4 linked regions of the Homo sapiens genome follow. The protein of the gene in region 3 purifies or fractionates together with the protein of the main gene of each other region. This does not show direct contact. Each region holds a gene or a part of one and is shown on either strand. Other genes may lie near its edges. The genes, in order: GM2A, HAVCR2, L2HGDH and ACP3.

Region 1 (4,268 bases), on a different chromosome or scaffold from region 3:
GGTGTGGGCTGCAGAGGTGAATCCTCCAGGAGCTTGCCCTCTGCTGGGATTCCAAGGCTGGCTGGAGAGGAGTGGGCAGCAGGGAGGTGGGAAGTCAGAGAAGGTGCCCACCAAAGGCCAATTAGGTCAGTCTCCTGTTTGGAAGTTCCAGGTCTATCATATCCTGCCTTATAGTTTACAATACACTTTTGGGAGATTATGTCTTTTGAGTCTTTTAGTTTAGTCCTGCCTATAAAATGAGTAGGATAAGTGTTATCCCAGCTTCATAGGTATGGAGTCTCATAGATGAGGCTCAGGGACGGGGGTGCCTCACCCAAGGTCACTCTGCCAGGAGCTCATTTTTCCTGTGATCTGTGATAGTTTCTTTTGTCAACCTTTTTCTTCTTCTCCTTCCTTGCTGCCTGATTGTCCCCAGCCATCCCAGCTCAGTAGCTTTTCCTGGGATAACTGTGATGAAGGGAAGGACCCTGCGGTGATCAGAAGCCTGACTCTGGAGCCTGACCCCATCATCGTTCCTGGAAATGTGACCCTCAGTGTCATGGGCAGCACCAGTGTCCCCCTGAGTTCTCCTCTGAAGGTGAGCCTGGGGGTGGGTGGAGAAGGGGAGGTGCGAGGGTCTGGCCAGCAGGGGTACTGGGGCATGTATGCTTGGGGAACTGTGAAGAATTTCAGAATCCTGGATTCCCAGAGAATAGTACAGGACATGTAGATTCAGACACTCTTTCACAGGTTCATGGAATCTCAGGATCATAAGATTGAAAGGAATCTCTGATGTCAGCGCCAGCAACTTCCTGGTGAGGGCAGGAGTGACGGATACCTTGCACCTGGCAGAAGCGTCCTGGCCTTCTCTGGGCCTGGTGGCCAACTGCTCATTATTGTCTGACAGCTCTGGTTGGCCAATTTGGTTTTGTTGTTAATTATAAAATTGATATACCAATTAGCCAGTAATATATAGTCACTTTAGAAAACACAAGTGGTCAAAAAATAAATAAAATAGGCCAGGTGTGGTGGCTCATGCCTGTAATCCCAACACTTTGGGAGGCTGAGGTGGGTGGATCTTTTGAGGTCAGGAGTTTGAGACCAGCCTGGCCAACATAGTGAAACCCCATCTCTACTAAAAGTACAAAAATTAGCTGGGCGTGGTGGCATGTGCCTGTAATCCTAGCTACTCAGGAGGCTGAGGTAGGAGAATTGCTGGAACCCAAGAGGCAGAGGTTGCAGAAAGCCAGGATCGCACCACTGCACTCCAGCCTGGGTGACAGAGTGAAACTCTGTCCCAAAATAAATAAATAAATAAAATAAATCACTTGAAATCTCACTACCTAGTGATAAGGGATAAGCACTTTTAACATCTTATAGGATATTCTTTGCAACTTTCCCCCATACAATTACATACATAACACACATATTTATTTTTAATGGATATGTATGATAATAGGCAGTGCTCATTGTAAATGTCCTCCAGTAATCTAAATCCTAGAGATAGTCAGTGTTTGCTCTTTATATATCCCATCAGAATTTTTATGTGTTTGTAAATATATACACACTTATACTCATGGGATTATATGATATGTGCTATTATACTTGCTATTTTTTTTGCCTCATACTATATGTCCATATCTTTCCAAGGATTAGGTGGCTCTACTTATTCAATTTTTTTTTATCCAATCATTATTTTATTATTTTAATGTATTGTAATTTTAGAGACAGTGTGTCACTCTGTTGCTCAGGCTGGAGTGCAGTAGTGTGATCATGGCTTACTGCAGCCTTGACCTCCTGGGCTTAAGGGATCCTCCCACCTCAGCCTCCTGAGTAGCTGGGACCACAGGTTCATGTCACCATGCTTACCTAATTTTTTTATTTTTTATGGAGACGGAGCCTCCCTGTGTTGCCCAGGCTGGTCTCAAACTCCTGAGTTCAAGCAATCCTCCTGCCTCAGACTCTCAAAATGTTGGGATTATAGGCGTGAGCCACCTTGCTCAGCCCACCCAATCATTTTTAATGGCAGAAATATTCTGATGTGGATCTTTCATAATTTATATAACAAGTCTATTGTTGAACATTTAGTTTGTTTCCAGGGTAGTTTTTATTTGTTTGTTTGTTTATTTGTTTGTTTTGAGACAGGTTCTTACTCTGTTGCCTAGGCTGGAGTGCAGTAGCGCAATCTCAGCTCCCTGCAACCTCCACTTCCCGGGTTCAAGCGATTCTCCTGTCTCAGCCTCCCAAAGTGCTGGGATTACAGGCACCTGCCATTGCGCCCCACTAATTTTTGTATTTTTAGTAGAGATGGGGTTTCACCATGTTGGCCAGGCTGGTCTTGAACTCCTGACCTCAGGCAATGTGCCTGCCTCGGCCTCCCAAAGTGCTGGGATTACAGACACCTGCCACCATGCCCAGCTACTTTTTGTATTTTTAGTAGAGATGGGGTTTCACCATGTTATCCAGGCTGGTCTTGAACTCCTGACCTCAGGCAATCCACCTGCCTCAGCCTCCCAAAGTGCTGGGATTATAGGCTTGAGCCACTGTACCTGGCCAGAGGGTTTTTTTTGTTTGTTTGTTTTTTGTTTTGCTGTAGTAACCACCTTTGTAGAAATTATTCTTATAGTACATCTTTTTATAATTTTCTGATTCTCTAGATACACACTTTTTAGGTCTTTTGATACATTTTGCCAAAGTGCCTCCCAATGTTTGAATAAACCTGCATCATTCCTAGTGAGCGTAGATGTCTATTCATAAGTTTATTTGCCTTTTGTATTTACTTTGGGAATAACCTGTTTGTTTCCATCCATTGACTATTTTAGGGGTGTATGTTTTTATATTTTCTTAGAAAACAATGAAGACTTTTCATATATCCATTGCAACACCATTTAATATGGTCCTTTCCTCTCTAGCTAAAATTGCTACCTTTATATGATGCTCCTCTATGCCCTTCAGTCTGTTCCTGATCCAGATCTATTCTAGTACCAGTTTTGTGTTAATTATTTAGAAGATTCCTGATTTGGATTCTGTGTTTCTATCATTATCCTTAGACCTGTCTTAATCACAGCTCCTACGTTATGGGCTTTCCTTGAGCAATACCTGAGTTAGAAAATCATGTGGAAAGTGCTTTGCACAGGGCCTGGCACCCAGGACATGCTCAGTACATTTTATATCTTGTGAACATTTCGATTAGTATCTGTCTTATCCTGCAGTCTCTTGACCCAGACACAAGTCCTGGATATGTGGCAGCTTTCAGCTCCCCTGCACCTCCTACCAAGCCTTTTCCTAGCAGAGTCATTGTGTTTCCATTACTGTTCCTCAAGTGATAGGGGGTCAAGCCCTGTACCCTTGGATCTGGGCCAAGGGATGGAATCATTCCCTATGTATGGACACTGGACTGTTTCTCTGCCAGGGTCACACACATTTATTTGTGTGCTCCCTCTGCTGATCTGGAGTGTGGGCTCTCCTGGTAGGCCGTCCGCCATGCTCCCTCTGCTGCCATCACCATGCAGCCACTGGTGTTTCCAGGGAGGGGGCTATGCAGCTGACTTGGAAACAAGAAGCTGGCAAACCCGCTCTTCTGCCCTCAGCCTGCTTTTCCTGGCTTCTTCACAAACCATTAAGATGGGTTTTACTCCCTATTCTCCTTTTCCATTGCTTTATTACCTTTCATAAATTTGGGCCTACATAATCTCCTCTGTCTTTACTGTCACTTGTGCTTAGGAAAAATTAGCCTCAGATCCCCTCTGCTCCTTCTTTTTCCCCAATTTCTTTTTTTTTTTTTTTTTTTTTGAGATGGAGTTTCACTCTGTTGCCTAGACTGGAGTGTAGTCGCGCGATCATGGCTCATTGCAACCTCTGCCTCCCGGTTTCAAGGGATTCTCCTGCGTCAGCCTCCAGAGTAGCTGGGATTATAGGCGTGCACTTTTTTAGTAGAGATGGGGTTTTGTCACATTGGCCAGGCTGGTCTCAAACTCCTGACCTCAGGTGATCTGCCCACCTTGGCCTCCCAAAGTGCTGGGATTACAGGCGTGAGCCACCAGGCCCGGCTCCCAATATTTCTCGTATATATATATATATTTATTTATTTATTTGGTTCAGTTCTTTTTTCAGGATATGTGCATATCAACTATTAGATGAAAGCTCTTCTGACCACTTGCTAGGGAGAAGAGCCGATGAGGGACAAAGGGTCTCAGGAAAGGTTGCAACTTGACCCAGGTCACAAAGCTAGTTGTTAGCATGGACAAGGCTGGTATGTTTATCTTGGGGTTTGGTTCCTGAGCTTTTAC
Region 2 (4,268 bases), on a different chromosome or scaffold from region 3:
TGACCTATTTTTGGTTGTTTCAATATTTTTTCTCAGTCAGGCCCTTGAGAAGCTCAGAGGTTCGAGGTATTATTCCTATATTCCCATTTTTGTTGCCCTAGAGGGAAGGAACTAACAAACAAAAACTAAAGGGAAGGCTGGGCGTGGTGGCTTACACCTGTAATCCCAGCGCTTTGGGAGGCCGAGGCAGAGGGATCACCTGAGGTTAGGAGTTCGAGACCAGCATGGCCACCATGGTGAAACCCCGTCTCTAATAAAAATACAAAAATTAGCGGGGCGTGGTGGCGCGCGTCTGTAATCCCAGCTACTTGGGAGGCTGAGGCAGGAGAATGGCATGAACCTGGGAGGCAGAGTTTGCAGTGAGCCAAGATCGTGTCATTGCACTCCAGCCTGGGTGAGAGAGTGAGACTCCGTCTCAAAAAAAAAAAAAAAGGAAAGAAAAACTAAAGGAAAGAAGACTTCTGTCTGTGGTAGAGACAAGTATAAGGAAATGCACCACCTCGACAGGGAGTGAACTCCGTCTACAGCAAATGCCCATTCAGTGGTGATGTAGTAAAAAGTACTGGCCGGGCGCGGTGGCTCACGCGTGTAATCCCAGCACTTTGGGAGGCCGAGGCGGGAGGATCACAAGGTCAGGAGATGGAGACCATCCTGGCTAACACGGTGAAACTCTGTCTCTACTAAAAATACAAAAAAGAAAAAAATTAGCTGGGCTTGATGGTGGGCGCCTGTAGTCCCAGCTACTTGGGAGGCTGAGGCAGGAGAATGGCGTGAACCCAGGAGGCGGAACTTGCAGTGAGCCGAGATTGCGCCACTGCACTCTAGTCTGGGTGACAGAGCAAGACTCCGTCTCAATTAAAAAAAAAAAAAAAAGTACTGAAGCACAGGATGGGAAAGTGAGACTAAATGACCCTTGAAGTCCCTTCTAGCACTATGGTTGTAAGATTCTTTAAAATATAACAATGGCATACAATAAGTATCTGGTATAACTTTATTATTTTCTGTCCCCACCATATTTAGTTTCCTCTCTAATTGCATAAAAGATGTTGGCTACCAATCACTAAAGACTAACCAAAGACTGAAACTTTGGAGAGCTAAAACCAGTAACTATAGTAATAATAAACAGTTGAGTGCTTTTTATGGGCCAGGTACTATGCTGAGCATTTTACATACATTATCATGTTTATACATTACAACCACCTCATGACATGGGCACTGGAATTATCCTCATTGTAGAGATGAGCAAACTGAGCTTCAGAGAATTTGAGCAACTTGACTGAGGTCACAGAGCTATCAAGAACAGCTGAAATTAGAACCCATTCCACCTGTCACTGAAGTACTTTAACCACAATCTCACTGTGCCTCCTGATCTTATAATATTAACGACAACAGCTAACATGTACAAATTGTGGTCAGACATTGGGATAAACGTTTTAGACATTTTCTTATTTAAAGCCCATAAGGTGTGATTTATGAGATTTATGACATTATGAGGTGGGACTCACCTATTAACCTCATTTTACAGAAGAAAAAAAAAATGGAGCTCCAGAGAGTTTAGAAGAGACCAGGACACTGACAAGAAATACCTTAAAATTAACCTTCATGATCAATGTGACTTGACTTCTGCTTTATGCCCAGTGTTCTCTTCTGGAGCACCCTGAGTACGTCCTTGCTGAATTACATGAAGAATTTAACTATTCTTTCTGTGGCTGGAATCCAGGGAAGGTGATGGGCTTTATTCTAGCTAGAAGGCATCCTAGAAATCACCTAATCCAATGTGTCAGTTCCCAAACACAGACTGACACCAGTTCATGACCAAACATCACCAGTCCAGGGTCAGTCAGAAAATGTGGACAAAGTAATGAGCATTTCATTCAATTTAGTTAATATTTAAGTAAAATTAAAGACTATAAAGTTTATTAACTTTTTTCCAGTTAAAATTTAAGTAAAATAATCCTAAGCCAGACCATCTTTTTCCCAGCACAGGTGTGTCTCCACCACTTCCCTCTTTTCAAACACTATTTCAGGTGCACGGAGATATCCATGCCTCCACTCTCACACTGTTTTCTCATCTTTTTTTCCCACATTCAAAATCCTCTGAATTCAGAGCCAGCTAAAGATTCCCTCCTCTGCCCCATGCATAGTTACCTGGGCCATGTCCCCTGGTGGTAAGCATCCTTGGAAAGGCTGCAGTGAAGTCTCTCTGCCGAGTCGGTGCAGGGGTGACCTTGGCTAATGTCAGAAACAACATAAGGATGAAAATTATCTGAGAGCAGAAAGCTTATTTCAGGGAATCAAAGGGGCAGCAAGAAAAAAATGCGAAAGACAATTAAGAAAGAGAAATACACCCTCAGCTTCCAAACCTGCCTGGATACCTACGTTGAGAGTGTATCACACACTTCAAATGTTTGACAAAGGTAAGATGCAGTCATCATTGTTACATTCTGATTATTAATAGCGGAACTAACAGCCACACAAATGGCCATAATTACAGGTTGAAGACTCCTTATCTGAAATGCTTGAGATCAGAAATGTTTTAGATTTTGAATTTTTTTTTTTTTTTTGAAACGGAGTTTTGCTCTTGTTGCCCAGGCTGGAGTGCAATGGCATAATCTCGGCTCACTGCAACCTCCGCCTCCTGGGTTCAAGCAATTCTCCTGCCTCAGACTCCTGAGTAGCTGGGACTACAGGCATGTGCAACCACACCTGGCTAATTTTGTATTTTTAGTAGAGACAGGGTTTCTCCATGTTGGTCAGACTGGTCTCGAACTCCCGACCTCAGGTGATCCACCCACCTCAGCCTCCCAAAGTGCTGGGATTATAGGCATGAGCCACCACGCCCAGCCATGTTTTTATTTTTTTATTTTTTAGTATCTGCCTATACTTATGTTCCAATGAGCTTTTCCTTTGAATGTCATGTCAGTGTCCAAAAAGTTTTGGATTTTAGAGCATTTCAGATTTTGGTGCATTTTAGGTTTTAGATTTTCAGATTTGGGATGCCCAACCTATAAAGGCTTTTAATAAAATATTATCACATAAAATCCTTCTAATGGCCCACATGATCGGTATTATTGTCATATTTTATAGAAGAGGAGCTCACAGCGTTTCAATAACTTGCTCAGGATTATATAGCTAGTAAGAGGCAGAGTTAGATGTAAACTCAGCTCTATCTGGGCACAAAGTACATGTTATAGAAATCTTAAGTCTGTTCACCTCCCAGCATACATGCATAACCCAGCAGTTCACCATGCTGGCTGCACCTGGGGTAAAATCACCTGAGGTAGACTCTGTAAAAAGCTAATGCTTAGCATCTACCTCCAGAGATGCTGATTTCTCTGGTTTTTGGTAGTGGGGTTTTTTCTTCTGCTTTTTAAGAGATAGGGGTAGCCACAGTATATCAGCCAGGCTGGTCTCAAACTCCTGACCTCAAGTGATCCTCCTGCTTCAGCCTCTCAAAGTATTGGGATTATAGGCATGAGCCACTGTACCTGGCATCTATAGTTGTTTAAAAACTCTCTATGTGATTCTAATGAGAGTCAGGGTCTCTAACCACTGATCTAGGCCTTTCATCCCATCTATACATTCCACCCATGAGTTTTGGCTTTTCTTTTCTTTTCTTTTTTTTTTTTTGAGACAGAGTTTCACCCTTGTCAGCCAGGCTGGAGTACAATGGCGAGATCTTGGCTTACCACAACCTCCGACTCCCAGGTTCAAGTGATTCTCCTGCTTCAGCCCCCCAAGTAGCTAGAATTACAGGCTCCCGTAACCATGCCTGGCTAATTTTTTGTATTTTTAGTGGAGACAAGGTTTTACTATGTTGGCCAGGCTGGTCTCGAATTCCTGACCTCATGATCCACCGGCCTCAGCCTCCCAAAGTGCTGGGATTAGAGGTGTGAGCCACCACGCCCAGGCACACCCATGAGTTTTAAAACAGAGAGAAGGTGTTAAATATCACTGAGCATCACCAATGGGGCCTGTTAAACTTTAGGTCTTAGTGGCCCTCCTCCAGGGCTATAATTAGGGAAGTCAGAGATGAGAACAATCAGTACCTTTAATATGATCCACAGATAAATCTTATTCATAAAGATGGCATGCAAATGTCCACTCACCTGGTTTGATGACCAACTTCAGGTTAAATTTTTCATCATTCATTATGCCTGGGATTTGGATCCGGCAGCAGTAGATCCCACTGTCTGCTAGAGTCACATTCTCTATGGTCAGGGACACATCTCCTTTGCGGAAATCCCCATTTAGCCAGTATCTGGATG
Region 3 (4,268 bases):
GCGAAACCCTGTCTCTACAGAAAACACAAAAATTATCTGGGCATGGTAGCATCTGCCTGTAGTTCCAGCTACTTGGAGGCTGAAGTGGGAGAACTGATTGATCCCAGGAGGTTGAGGCTGCAGTGAGGACAAAGTGAGACCTTGTCTCAAAATTACAAAACAAAAAACCAAAAAAACTTTAGTTGTGATTTTCAAGTGAGACTCTGCAAAGCCTAGATGCACATATGTATATATTTTTACAACTACATGTGCCAGGAAGCTCCATCCTAAACTTTCTGTTTCAGAATCCATAGAGGGTGAAACTCAAGTATAGCTTTAAATCTAGTGATTTAAACAGGAAAATCTAGTGATTTTCATGTGAAACCCTTTAGAGAGAAACATTGGTAAAAGGACCAAACAAAATACCTAATTCAGTATTTCTTACAATAGTAAAGAATCTGCATCTTAGGTCAACACAATCGTATTGTTAGTTTCCTACACAAGGAAATTACTTTGGTCATCAGTAATTTCTCCAGTGGCTTACAAAATGATGGAGACTGGCTCAAAATGATTTTATTAAAATAGCCATCTACTGATTTTGAGAGAATCTATTTCCTCCCCCACCAAATAAAACTGGAAACTTAGCAATACAAGATTTGGATTGCCAGATATATGAATAACTCTTGGCCTTATCTTCTTTTTATTTTTATTTATTTATTTATTTATTTATTTATTTATTTATTTATTTATTCATTTTTTGAGATGGAGTCTTGCTCTGTCGCCCAGGCTGGAGTGCAGTGGCAGCGATCTCAGCTCACTGCAAGCTCTGCCTCCCGGGTTCATGCCATTCTCCTGCCTCAGCCTCCCAAGTAGCTGGGACTACAGGTGCCAGCCACCACGCCTAGCTAATTTTTTGTATTTTTAGTAGAGATGGGGCTTCATCGTGTTAGCCAGGATGGTCTTGATCTCCTGACCTCATGATCCACCTGCCTCGGCCTCCCAGAGTGCTGGGATTACAGGCATGAGCCACTGCGCCCAGCCAGCCTTTTCTTTTTAACCCCAGCTCAACAGAATTTTCTTGAAGTAGTTAAAATGTTATACTTATTCCAAAAGGCATTTTTTTTTTTGTTTGTTTGTTTGTTTGTTTGCTACCCCATCCACTCCAAAGCTTTTAATTTGGATTAATACAACATTCAATATACCAATCACAAATATGGGGATTTACCCAATAAGTAGAGTATCAAGAAAGACAAAACTTCCCACATTGAAAATATAAGCACATAAAATCATTTTTAAAAATAAATAATGTTACCTATTGATAATTATATCCATAACATCTGTGGCACTGAAGTCAAAGGGTCTGTAACCCTCTCGTTTAAAGGCAAGAACTGCATTAGGCCCTAGCCAAATACTGCCATCCATCCTTGGTGTGAAGTGAACTCCTAGGAAAGGAAACCGGCTATCTGGGACCTATAAATTTAACATAGTAAATAACAGCCTCATTTCACATTCCATGTTATCAGAGATGCAAACATTCAATTGGTAACATAAAACACTTTCTTCTCATGCATTTAATTTGTATTGTGAGCTGTACTCAGATATACTTTTCCATTAACATGCTTCTGCTTAGAAATGCACACAAGAAACCCTGATGCTGGCTGGGTGTGGTGGCTCACGCCTGTAATCTCAACACTTTGGGAGGCTGAGGCGTGAGGATCATTTGAGATCTGGAGTTCAAAACCAGCCTGGCCAACATGGTGAAACCCCATCTCTACTAAAAATACAAAAATTAGCCTGGCGTGGTGGTGTGCACCTGTGATCCCAGCTACTTGGGAGGCTGAGGCATGAGAATCACTTAAACCCAGGAGATGGAGGTTGCAATAAGCCAAGATCATGCCACTGCACTCCAGCCTGGGCAACAGAGTGAGAATCTGTCTCAGGAAAAAAAAAAAAAAAAAAAAGAAACTCTGATGCTACTGACACTAATAGATTGTTCCATCTATGCATCTTTCTGGGTAAAGGAAAAAAAAAAGATGAACTGTCTTACTTCAGGCTATTCTCGGTCTTTCACAAGGGATGTCTATGACTGGCAAGTAAAATCAGAGCTGCCAGAAAAAAATACACATTCATAGCACAGGCTTCTGCAAAGTACAAATACATGAGGTTGAAGCAGATGAAATTCATGTTTCGGCAAGCTCAAAAATATCAAATAGCCGAATACTGACTATTTCATCTGGTTCGACCTAATATATTTTAAGAGATTCATTCATTTCCAGGGTAGTTCCAGACAGAAGAATGAACTCCTCATTTAAATACCTCTGTCTTCTACTCCCTGAAACTACAGAGTGGCCACATCCCTTTTCTGTACCTACAGATAGTGAACTGAGGAAAAGGGTTGGGTATCAGGGACTTCCATAAGGGAAAGTTTTCCCTTTCCCTCCACCAGAGAGAAGGTAGAATTCAGTTCCTTCTTGATAGCACTTCCCAGAGTGCACTCATGCTTTCTGGAGACATGTACCTGCAGGCAATTAATTACAATTTAATAACCATGATACAGGGATAAAGATTTAGGGATTTAACCACAAGAGAAACCGATGAAATGCTTACAAAAACGGTCCTTCAAAATTTCTCTTATTTCTGACCCAAGTGAAAGTTGTTTTCATCTCCTTTATGACCACCACCTGCTTGAAAAAAATGAGAAGTAGGAAGCATCATTACCTACCGGATAAATATTTCCTTTTACAAGATAACATTTTTCTGGCTTCAAAAGCAGGTAATCTCCCCGGAATGGTACAATTCGAGGATCAGGAGTGCAGCCACTCAACTCTGAAATACGGTCTGAGTAAAGTCCTGCACATGTCACAACATACTGACATCGAATTTCCTCTCCCTAGTGCAAAATAAAAGAACAGTTATTTGTATAAAGTGGAGTAGAATAGGTCAAGAGGGGAAAAACAGGTGATAGAAAAGAAAAAAAGGTACAGAAATAGAATTTTTTCTAAAAGAGGATATTCAATACAGGTATCAGCAAAATATGTTCTTTAGCATTTAGGTGGCAGCTAGAAACTTAGGATAGTGGCATGTAAGAGGATGTCACCTTAAATTTTGTACTGTAAAGATAATAATGGTCAACCTAGCAAGGATACTTAGTAAGGTATACATGCATGCACACAAATACATACATACAAATACATACAAATCTGTTTATTAGGACCTAGCAGGGAGCTTCTTAACTATTTGCTGCATGAGGAAGCAAATGTCATTTAGACAGCCTCCACCAATTTTTTTTGCTCCCCCACCCACCCCACAGCTTTTAATTTGGATTAATTAAAAATTCAATATACCAATCACAAATATGAGGATTTACCCAATCAGCAGAATATCAAGAAAGACAAAACTTCCTACATTAAAAATATAAGCACATAAAATCATTTTAAAATTAAAGTTATTACCTATTGATAATTATATCCATAACATCTCTGGCACTGAAGTCGAAGGGCCTGTAACCCTCTCATTTAAAGGCAAACTCTGTATTGCAACCAGCTTCTCCTGTATCTGAGCAATTACCGTGTTACTCTTCGGTTGCTTCACACTCAATAATCCTGCCCAGTTGCAACTGTAACCTACCCACCAAGCAATTTCTCCTTCCTAATCAATATCTACTTTGCAAACTGAGGACACTTTAGAAATCTCATTCATTCAATGCACATTTAATGAGAGCACACACTACGTTCAACGTTTGCTTTAGTGACCAGCTTTAGACTGCTAATGTTAGGCTGTTATGATTTCCTATAAATTTTATTTTGTGATTATCATCTGCTTATTTTTAACTTTACTCACTAAGTTTAGCCAATTTGTCACCCTATTTCCTAAATGACTTCATTTATCCCGCATTCACCACCACACTTGAATTCCCATCTCTTTACTTCTTACAGAGTAAACACCTAGCAATTCTGTTCTTATTCTTAGATCTTCTTCCCAGATGACCTATTTTTGAAGCCTCAGAGTTCTCACCTGTCTCAACATTTTCTTTCTTTCCAGGCCTTACTGTTTTGTTGTTGTTGTTGTTGTTGTTGTTGTTTTGAGACGGAGCCTCACTCTGTTGCCCAGGCTGGAGTGCAGTGGCAGCGATCTCGGCTCACTGCAAGCTCCACCTCTTGGGTTCACGCCATTCTCCTGCCTCAGCCTTCCGAGTAGCCGGAACTACAGGCGCCCGCCACCACGCCCGGCTAATTTTTTGTATTTTTAGTAGAGACGGGGTTTCACCGTGTTAGCCAGGATGGTCTCGA
Region 4 (4,268 bases), on a different chromosome or scaffold from region 3:
CCATGTTGGCCAGGCTGGTCTTGAACTCCTGACCTCAGGTGGTCCACTTGCCTCGGCCTTCCAAAGTGCTGGGATTACAGGTGTGAGCCACCGTGCCCAACTAGTATAACTTTTTTTTTTTTTTCGAGACTGAGTCTTGCTCTGTCATCTAGGCTGGAGTGCAATGGCACCATCTTGGCTCGCTGTAGCCTCTGCCTCCCAGGTTCAAGTGATTCTCATGCCTCAGCCTCCCGAGAAGCTGGGATTACAGGCACACGCCACCACACCCAGCTAATCTTTGTATTTTTAGTAGAGATGGGGTTTCACCATGTTGGCCAGGCTGGTCTTGAACTCCTGACCTAGTGATCCACCTGCCTTGGCCTCCCAAAGTGCTGGGATTACAGGCATGAGCCACCACACCTGGCAACATTTTATATACAATAAAAATAATAGATTTTTAACACCACATACAATTTGTGACCATTTTGAGCCAATGATTTGTTCATTTTTTGGAGATTAGGAGTAAAAGATTGCAGGTGGGGAGGTTAGGAAAGCTAATTCTCAATACTTTAATAACATACTTCTATATTTGTACCCATGTCATGCTATTGTGATTGCACATTTCTCTTTGGGAAGAGTAGTCTGGACTTTTGAAATCTTGGTGCTTTGATTCTAATATGCTTTCTCAGTATAATATCAAACCAAACACAAAGCCATCTTATGAGCAAAAGATAAGGAAAGAAAACACTGAAGAACTACAAGATGAAGTCTACACTGATGTCAGCAAATATTTTTAATATAGAGACAGCTGCATAACACCTTGATTTATCTGAGGTTACCCGCACCTGTACTTATACTACCTGGCTAAAATGTTCCATTGAAAAGTAAGCTAAGAACCTGCTCTTTTGAAATTCTGTAAAACAGAATTCAATAGACATTAAATAAGAAAACAGTCTCAGACTTTAGTCATTTTTGAGAAGGAATTCCAAGAAAGTGGGAGATGCTTGGTTTGTGTCTCTAATATCTGAAGAAAACAGATCTTTTGGCCCTTTAAACTAGTGACAAATTAAAACTTCGGTAGAGTAGTCTACAGAAACAGGGGCAATGATGCAATAAATGTTAAGCGATCATTTTGGTCAGGTGAGAAATTACTTTCATGAATGATCCCCTGAAGGCAGGAAGGACAGCTGCATATTTTTTTGTGAGCACCTGCAGTTACTAGTCTCAGGGGTGACTTGGTCATGATCAGAAATGATTATGGTTAATCATTGATGCCTCTTTCCACAATTGAAGTACATTTTAGAGTTTTTATATCCCAGGTAAATGTGTCTTTGAATAACTAAAGTTGTTACATGGTTTCAATAAATTACAAACCCCACACTGTTTTAGTTTCTAGGGCTTCTCAACCTCAGCATTGTTGACATTTTGGGCTAGATAATTCTTTGTTGTGGGGGTTGTCCTGTGCATTGTAGAATGTCTAGCAGCATCCCTAGCCTTTACCCACCGGATGCCAGTAACATTCCCCAGCTGTGACAACTGAAAAAGGCACATTTTCTGCCATAGGGGCAGAAAATCACCCCAAGTTGAGAGCCACTGAGTTAGCCAAAGAGAAGTCAGGTGAGAGACATTGTAATAAAATAATTTACATTGCTTCCCACCAACCTATAACCACAACGGTAACTCCTTAACATTTTTTGAACACTCACTTTGTCCTGGAAACTGTGCTAAGTGCTTCTCATAGATGTAATCTTCTCATCAGTTCCACAAAGCAGTTACTATTATTATTTCCATTTCACAAATGAGGAAGTTTAGCTTAATTAAGTGACCTGTCTAAACTCACACAGCATGTAAGAAGTGGTAGAGCTGATATTCAAACACAGGCTGTGCCTCCAACTCCAGCATACTTAACCACCTGTGAGAGGTTCATTTCTGTATGATCACACTCCTCACAGTCCCACCAGCTAAATCTGAATGGTCTGGGATCTAACGCTTCTTTATTAACTCTACTTAGTATACTCTTTTCCTCTAGGATTGGAAGGGGTGTGTGTGTGTGTGTGTGTGTGTTTTGTATCAGAAGAAACCAAAACCTTGATACGGAAACTACCCCGAAGGCACTGTGAACTATGTATATTATTGAAAGAATAGAACTGAGGTTATGCAACTAAATGACAGAATGGCCTGAGAGAGAAAAACAAGTGTGGTCACCTTAGCAGAGTGTTTTGAAGAGCAGAGAACTGGAACATAATCATGAGACTTGGGCAAACTTTCTCACTCTGGCCCATAGTTCAGAAATAATTGTACTCCCCTACATTTCAGTAGGTTTTAAGTGTTTCCAAGGTAGTTGCTCAAACATGCTGTCAACCCTTTGGAAGGGATGTCCTGGAGAAACACTTAATAAACCATTCTCCACTTCCAGGGCTGGAAATCAAAATGTGTGCACACACCCCTCCCGCAGGCAAATGTGAAGCTGGTGTTCCTTGAGCTTTTGGAGTTTCAAAATTCAGCTGGAGTTCTTGGACTATGCGAAGACATTCTTTTAATTCTGTGGTAGAGCAATCTTCTTAACTGCTGCTCTACCAATTATTACCTCTGTGCTCAGTCCAGCAATCATACTCTATGAAATCCTTTAAAAACCTAAAAATACTTTATTAGCAATTAGGATTTTTGCAGTAGTAGTGGTAATTGTAATAGAAAGACATCCAAGATAATAACAATTCCTGGCCAGGCACAGTGGCTCATGCCTATAATCCCAGCACTTTGGGAGGCTGAGGCAGGCGGATCATGAGGTCAGGAGATCAAGACTATCCTGGCCAACATGGTGAAACCCCATCTCTACTAAAAATACAAAAATTAGCTGGGTGTGGTGGCGCATGCCTGTAGTCCCAGCTACTCGGGAGACTGAGGCAGGAGAATCACTTGAACCTGGGAGGCAGAGGTTGCAGTAAGCCGAGATCGTGCCACTGCACTTCAGCCTGGTGACAGAGTGAGACTCCGTCTCAAAATAAATAAATAAAAATAAAAAAAAATAATAATTCCTTACATTTGCACAACCCTCCATGGTTTGTAGAATTTTCCCCTGCTACCTCTTTTAATTATTACATCCCCGTCTGAGGACAGGTTGGCACTACTGCTGCACTGAGCAAGTAAGAAAACTATATGATCAAAGAGATCATGTAGCTGTCCAGATCTCCTAATTCTCATGATAGTTGGCCCACTGTTTCCCCATCATACTACAATCACTTCACACTTTTAAATCATAGGTAACTGTTTTTAAAAGGACTTTTGGTTTGGTGCCCCCATGAATGAACCTGCTCCACTGAATCTGCTAAACAAATCTGGCATGTGGCTTAGGGTGTGGAGAACCTGGTGAGTACAGTCGAGGCTATATCCAGTGGAAAATGTAAAGATATACAAAAGTGGAGTTTTTTTTTTTTTTTTTTTGAGATGGAGTCCTGCTCTTGTTGCCCAGGCTGGAGTGCAATGGCATGATCTTGGCTCACTGCAACCTCTGCCTCCCAGGTTCAAGTGATTTTCCTGCCTCACCCTCCCAAGTAGCTGGGATTACAAGCACCTGCCACCACGCCTGGCTAATTTTTGTATTTTTAGTAGAGACGGGGTTTCGCCATGTTGGCCAGGCTGGTCTCGAACTCCCGACCTCAGGTGATCCACTCGCCTTGGCCTCCCAAAGTGTTGGGATTACAGGCGTGAGCCACTGTGCCCAGCCTAAAAGTGGAGATTTTTATCATGAGCCCACCACTGTCTCCAACAATTATCAACTTGTATGTGGCTAGTCTTGTTTCTTTTATATCCTCATCACTCTTAGATATTATATCATGTTCTATTGCTCTTTGCATAAATTAAAGGTCCTTACAAGGGCTCACAAGATCTTACCTGATCTGGTCCCTACCCACCTTGATATTCTCACCTTGATGTCCTCAGCTTACCCACATGGGCCCTCCTGCTGTTACATCCAATATACTAAATTTGCTGAAGCCTCAGGGCCTTTGCTCTTGATGTCCTGTCTGCTTTGAATGTCTCAAGTCTGCGTCTTCTCTCAGCATACACACCACTCATCAATTTGAGGTCTGTCCTGAAAATTTGACCTTTACAGAGAGACATCCCTTGACCATCATTATAATTCTTGCTCAATCTCTATCTTATCTCACTGTTTTATTTCAAATAAATATTCCTGATGTTTTCTTATTTTTTGTTTTTACTAAAATTAAAAAAAATCTGGCTCCCTCCCTGTCCCTAGAAACTCCTTGAAAGCAGAAGCCTTGCTGTCACAA

Evidence for each region.
Region 1: the proteins of L2HGDH (region 3) and GM2A purify together in Homo sapiens (affinity purification with mass spectrometry, with the first as the bait; one large-scale study listed by BioGRID). This does not show direct contact.
Region 2: the proteins of L2HGDH (region 3) and HAVCR2 purify together in Homo sapiens (co-immunoprecipitation; one large-scale study listed by IntAct). This does not show direct contact.
Region 4: the proteins of L2HGDH (region 3) and ACP3 purify together in Homo sapiens (affinity purification with mass spectrometry; one large-scale study listed by BioGRID and IntAct). This does not show direct contact.

What each region holds. Positions count from the first base shown.
Region 1 is NC_000005.10:151,259,340-151,263,607, forward strand, and holds part of GM2A (ganglioside GM2 activator isoform 1 precursor), read left to right. Parts: intron 1-415; coding exon 416-577; intron 578-4,268.
Region 2 is NC_000005.10:157,102,518-157,106,785, forward strand, and holds part of HAVCR2 (hepatitis A virus cellular receptor 2 precursor), read right to left. Parts: coding exon 4,110-4,268; intron 2,233-4,109; coding exon 2,149-2,232; intron 1-2,148. UniProt on the Homo sapiens protein: Cell surface receptor implicated in modulating innate and adaptive immune responses. Generally accepted to have an inhibiting function.
Region 3 is NC_000014.9:50,266,462-50,270,729, forward strand, and holds part of L2HGDH (L-2-hydroxyglutarate dehydrogenase, mitochondrial isoform 1 precursor), read right to left. Parts: intron 2,870-4,268; coding exon 2,702-2,869; intron 1,450-2,701; coding exon 1,292-1,449; intron 1-1,291.
Region 4 is NC_000003.12:132,323,371-132,327,638, reverse strand, and holds part of ACP3 (prostatic acid phosphatase isoform PAP precursor), read right to left. Parts: intron 1-4,268. UniProt on the Homo sapiens protein: A non-specific tyrosine phosphatase that dephosphorylates a diverse number of substrates under acidic conditions (pH 4-6) including alkyl, aryl, and acyl orthophosphate monoesters and phosphorylated proteins.